Regions from separate parts of the Homo sapiens genome. Here region 1 is linked to region 2. A link means that fine-mapping ties the variant in region 2 to the expression of a gene that starts in the linked region. Tissue or cell type: blood mononuclear cells. Region 2 holds a variant in brackets; the other region holds the start of a gene. All regions are shown on one strand. Distances are from middle to middle. Region 1 holds the start of TENM2-AS1 (TENM2 antisense RNA 1). Region 2 holds the start of LOC124901128 (a long non-coding RNA gene).

Region 1 (2,913 bases), 5.2 kb before region 2:
ATGTGAAGAGGACATTAGTCTACTGTAGGAGAAAATTAGGTCAACTGCCGAGAGAGAAACCCTGCCATGGGATGGAAGGGGGCTGTGAGAAACAGAAAGAGAGACGTCCATCTGATATGGTTTGGCTGTGTCCCCACCCAAATCTTGATTTGAATTGTATCTCCTAGAATTCCCATGTGTTGGGAGGGACCCAGGGGGAGGTAATTGAATCCTGGGGGCCGATCTTTCCCGTGCTATTCTAGTGATAGTGAATAAGTATCACGAGATCTGATGGGTTTATCAGGAGTTTCCGCTTTTGCTTCTTCCTCATTTTCTCTTGATGCCGTCAAGTAAGAAGTGCCTTTTGCCTCCCGCCATGATTCTGAGGCCTCCCCAGCCATGTGGAACTGTAAGTAAGTCCAATTAAACTTCTTTTTCTTCCCAGTCTTGGGTATGTCTTTATCAGCAGCGTGAAAACAGACTAGTACACCATTTAATGACATCTTAGAGTCTCTGAGGCCAGCTTCTCCCTTGTGGTGGCCCTGTTAGGTAAGACAGCGCCTACTCTTCTAAGTTAGTCTGAATGCACTTCCTGTCTCTTGCAGTGGAAGGATTCCAGACAGATGTAGGGGCAATGTATTTGTGAATTTATACCCACTGTGGTGGGGGAGCATTTACACATTAAGAAGGCGCCTATAGAAGGCACAGTTATTACATCTTTCTTTGTCACCTGTTGTCTGAGTACCCACCACATGGCACTTGTCACCAGGGATACAGGGGCGACCTGGTCCCTGCACTTATGGAGCTCACAGATGCCATGATGTAACTGCTTCTTTTTTTTTTGAGATGGGAGTCTCACTCTGCTGCCAGACTGGAGTGCAGTGGCACGATCTTGGCTCCCTGCAACCTCCGACTCCCTGGTTCAAGCGATTCTCCTGCCTCAGCCTCCTGAGTAGCTGGGATTACAGGCATGCGCCACCACACCCAGCTGATTTTTGTATTTTTAGTAGAGATGGGGTTTCACCATTTTGTTCAGGAGGGTCTTGATCTCCTGACCTCGTGATCCACCCGCCTCGGCCTCCCAAAGTGCTGGGATTACAGGCGTGAGACACCACGCCCGGCCTGCTTCATGTTTTTGCAAGGCCAGAGTGAGTGAAGAAAGGAATGGAGGACAATGCGGGAAGGAGGGGGAGGACTCTTTCAAAGGAGATTCTTTGAGGAGTTCTTGGGAGGCATAATGAAAATCTTCCCTGCACTGAGTTTGGGCAGGAATGAAGGGACTAACACTCCATTACAAAGCTTTTGGTGAAAGGATGTGGTCCCGGTCTATCCATCCGCCATCATCTTACATTTCCCCAGGCTGTAAGGAAGAGCCACTGATACTTTCCTCCACTAAGAGATGCCTCCGTCTGGAGGATTGTGGGAAGAAAGGGTACCTAGGTGGGTTGGAATTTCACTGGGCACTGTTCTATTGTGATGGCTTCACTGAGATTGTTGGTCTTCTCTAAACTCCAGGAATGTTCAGAGCCTTGGGCCCTCACACCCCTCAGCTGACCAGGCTCCCAGGAGCTTGCCAGTCCCGGGGACGTTCAGGCTATTTGCTTCATGCATGATACCCACACATTCTCTCCAAATCCCTGCTCTCCACATGGGGAGCAGTGATTACATGGAGCTGGTTAAGTGGCTGCATTTCAAAGTTCATTTAGTTTCTTCTCCATTCCAAGAGGCAGGGCTGGGGCCACCAGAATCTTACATCTCTGGCTTGGGTTTCAGCTCCCAGCCACTCTCTTTTACAGAGCCCACAAAGCGTGGACGGCCACCCAGCCTTCCCAGTTTACATGATCATGGGGAGAGCCTGTCAAAAGGTGAGCATGACACAGCAACCCTGCTAGTTGCCCAATCCTCGTCCTCGTGTGCTAGACATCTCTCAAATCTCTCCCCCTACCTTCTTTCTTTCCTCGCTGCTAGTGATTTAGTTTCTTGTTTGGACTAATGCAGCACCCTCCTTACTGTCCCTCTCCTCCTATCATCTATCTTGTCCCCTTCTCATCTGTCTTCCTCCATACCTGAGGAAGTCAGAGAGATCTTTTCTTTCCTTTTCTTGAGACAGGGTCTTGCTCTGTTGCCCAGGCTGGAGTACAGGGCATGATCAGAACTCACTGCAGCCTCAAACTCCTGTGCTCAAGCAGTCCTCCTGCCTTGGCCTCCCGAATAGCTGGGACTACAGGCATGTGCCACCATGACAGGGTCTCCCTATGTTGCCCAGGCTGGTCTCCAACTCCTGGGCTCAAGGGATCCTCCTGCCTTGGCCTCCCAAAGTGCTAGGATTATAGGCATGAGCTACTGTGCCAGGCCATGGTCGGCTATTTAAACTTTTTTTTTTTTTTTGGTTGTTGTTGTTGTTTGTTGTTGTAGAGACAGGGTTTTGCTATATTGCGGTTTTGCTATATTGCCTAGGCTGGTCTTGTCTTGAACCCCTAGGCGAAAATGATCCTCCCACTTTGGCCTCCCAAAGTGTTGGGAAAACAAGCATGAGCCACTGTGCCCAGGCTGGAGAGAGCTTTCTAATGCCACACATCCCAGCACATCACTCTGCTAATGAAGTCCAGGTAGGGCTCACCATTGCCCTCAGGATAAATGTTAGCCTGGCACCATGTTCTTTTCCATGTGCAGTCTCTGGCTGCATCTTCTTTTTCTACCCTACTCTCTAACACATCCACTGCCACACTGAATTAGTTTTCTGAAATGCCATTCCCTTTTTGGCCTCTTGGCCTTTCCACTGGCGACATTCTTTGTCCTGTCACCTCTGTTCCCTATCTCTGCCTGGCTGATTCTTACTACTCTACAGAAATGATTCCAGCTCCTCTGTGAAGCCCTTCCTGATCTCTTGTCAAACGGGAGACCTGATCACTCTGCTACGTGCTTACCAAGTCT
Region 2 (2,913 bases):
ATATAATTATACATTATAATATAATATAGGGTTTACATTATAATATAAAAATGTAATATAAAATTACATTATATAATAATTATAATAATAATATAATTAATGTTATATATTGGTTTTAAAAAGATGTCACGTGGGGCAAGTTGCCTGGTCTGGGAAAACGAGGGTTGGCTAAAACTCCCCACTGAGGTTCAGTTGTTACTTCCTCTTGGGAAATCTTCCCTGAACCTCTCAGGCTGAGTGGCATCCCTCTGGGATCCCATCAGACCCTGCATGTACCTCTGTCTTTTCACTTAACCTGTGATCATCCTGTGTCTGCATATTTTATCAGACCCTCAATTCCTTGAGTGCAAAGAACATACTTTAAAAGTTTTGTTCTTCCAGCACTTAGCAAATTACTCAGCACATAGTAGGCACGAACACCAATTCATTGGTTGAACTGGCCAGACAGTGAAAACTGAGGAAGAAGAAGACAGCAAGTGTGAAAAGAAGACCAAAGCTGTCTCTAGTTACAGCGTAATGTAAATCCCCATAGCAGGAAATGGCCGCCTTTTTCAGTCCTAGGAAATGGAAATGGAGAACGTTTTTCCCAAGGTATGAGTCCCAAAGGGAGATGGATTCTACCTTCTGAGTGGAGAGTTTGCCTTTTCCAGGGAATAAAGGGGTATTAGAGGCTTTGAAGCTGGGAAACTTTCTCAGCTCTGTGAGGAAAGTGTATATCCCCTCCCACTCTGTGGTAACAGAGAAACTTTCTCAGCTCTGTGAGGAAAGTGTATATCCCCTCCCACTCTGTGGTAACAGATTGGGTGGAACCACTTACCCGGAGCTTCCTGCCAAAGATGGTGACTTTGCCTTTAATCTGTTCCTTTCTTAGGCGCCACTCAATGGAGTTTAAGCCATTCTCCATAGGCAGGGAGATGTTGCAGCGTCCAATGGTGGGGGTGATGGTGCCCGCTAGGACATGGGGCTCGCTGTGGAAGCTGATACCCATCCCATTAGCATACATCACCCTCAGGGTACCATTATTACAGAGCTGGTAGCTGTTCCGAACTTGATCTGGAAAAATGTAAGTGGGGGTGGGGATAGGGAAATAAATTATCCGCTCTATTAGTCAGAAGAGAATAGAACCCCTATTTTTTTTTAATAGGTTTCCATGGTACTTTGCAGCCATTAGTCGAAGGCTGCCTTCAATTAGCACACATACATACCATGTGAAGGTAAGTAGCAGAGATACTACTGATCCACGTAAAGAAAAACATAATATGTGGCACTCCAGAAATAATTATGCCGTGATGTTTCTTTTACTCACTGAAGACTATTAATAGCACGTTTAAACATTT[A/T]AAGATGTCTATTGCCTACACAATTTGTGTCAATCAAATTCCCGAAGCTTAACATATATATTTTAGCTTATACCAGGAAAAAAAAAAAAAAAAAGAAAGGCAAATGACTTCAGTTTTCCTCCTTTTGCCTGCCGTCTAACCCAAGGTTGCTGGTCTAGCCACAGGCCAGATCCACTACAAATCAAAGCCCAGGATTCTTTCTTTGAGAAAATGGAGAGAAGAAGTCAACCTTCCCCATCCTCATGCTTTTACTGCCGACTGCACCTGATACCACCCCCACTCAAGAGAACTCTGAAGAGACTCAAATACATCAGGGAGCTGGAGTCAGTGGGTGGGTGCTGATAATGTGTTTATCTTCCCCAGTGGAAACTACACGAGTCAATCAGACGTCTGACCTTTTCCTTTACCGAAAAGTTACGGGAAGGAAATGTGAGTCAGAGACTCCTTTTACAGATACACTGCTTCCTGACTGTCTGGGCAAAGGAGCTGGCCTGGGCTGGCCTCTGAGATGTCAGCTTTTGGGGCAGTGAGCAAGTGTGTACCTGTCGCTCCTGTGACTCCAGCCGTCACACGCAGAAGGACAGAATCTACATCATTAATCATTTGGCAGAGCAGAAATAGAGTCATTGAAACAGGCTCCGCTGTGGGATAATAGTCCAGAAATGTCACCATTTATCTACTGAGAGGACACTTTTATCCTCTGACAACGGGCTAGCCCACCGACATTATATCTTAATTAAAAGAAAAATTAATCGGCACAATTCATTTTCTTGCCAGCCCCAGTGCTTGCCCTGGACTGCAAAACATGTCTAGTAGCAACAATAACCACAGGGTGGGCAGAGACCTTTGAGATCCCAGTCTTGGAGAGAGAATGTTAAAGAGCTCCAGTCCCAGGGCAACCAACTCATCAAACAAATGCTTAAAAGAGAGAATCAGGATGGAACAAGAAAATATGAAGTCTAGTGGTGAGCCAGGAGAATAAATGGCCTTTGAGAAGATAACTATGTGTTTTGGGTTGGTGGGGAGAGGTGGTGATGGAAGGGTAAGAGGTAGGGAGAGAGTATGTGGGGGGCGGGTGGAAATGGACATTTTCAGATAACTATGTAGACAGTTCAAATATCTAGACATTTGGCTGGGTGTAGATGACATTCTGTTCTATCTGATTAAGTCATTTTCTACAAGATTGACCTCTTATAGTTTGCTGTGGACACTTGAATAAAATAGAAAGCTAGGGGTACGCTGGGTCTCTGGAAGTCCTCCCAGGCTGCATAACTCACATGTTGGGCTTGGCTGGGTTCTGGGTCTATGGGTGAGTTTGGGGGTAGGATGGTATGGGTGGAGGCTCACCTTGTACCACTGTGTAGGAGGCCTCTACTGAAGAGAGGTTGGTGATGACAGTGACGTCATCATCACGGTTGGAGTTCTCAATGTCAATGGTAATAGATTTCTCCATTTCCCGGTGCAGACTGGTTACCACCCCCGTGGGGCGCGTCACGTTGGTCAGGCGGCCTTCGTGGTCATAGCTGGGGGGAGATAGATAGATAGATAAACCCTGGTTAGCAGCAGTCATTGGGGC

What was found. PIP is the estimated chance that this variant, and not a neighbour inherited with it, causes the effect. A credible set is the group of variants that fine-mapping cannot tell apart.
Region 1: TENM2-AS1 starts here. The variant in region 2 is the best candidate, but not a certain one, in a credible set for the expression of TENM2-AS1 in blood mononuclear cells (TOPMed, PIP 0.57).

What each region holds. Positions count from the first base shown.
Region 1 is chr5:168,231,235-168,234,147 of GRCh38, reverse strand. It overlaps TENM2-AS1 (TENM2 antisense RNA 1), which reads left to right and starts at 1,776. Exons shown (of 3, transcript NR_109894.1): 1 at 1,776-1,844. All of the region lies in intron 27 of TENM2 (teneurin transmembrane protein 2), which reads right to left.
Region 2 is chr5:168,226,035-168,228,947 of GRCh38, reverse strand. TENM2 (teneurin transmembrane protein 2) reads right to left here. Exons shown (of 31, transcript NM_001395460.1): 26 at 2,685-2,860; 27 at 818-1,053. It overlaps LOC124901128 (a long non-coding RNA gene), which reads left to right and starts at 1,049. Exons shown (of 2, transcript XR_007059038.1): 1 at 1,049-1,214; 2 at 1,483-2,338. RefSeq lists an enhancer at 507-596. The variant A/T (reference allele first, on the strand shown) is at 1,338.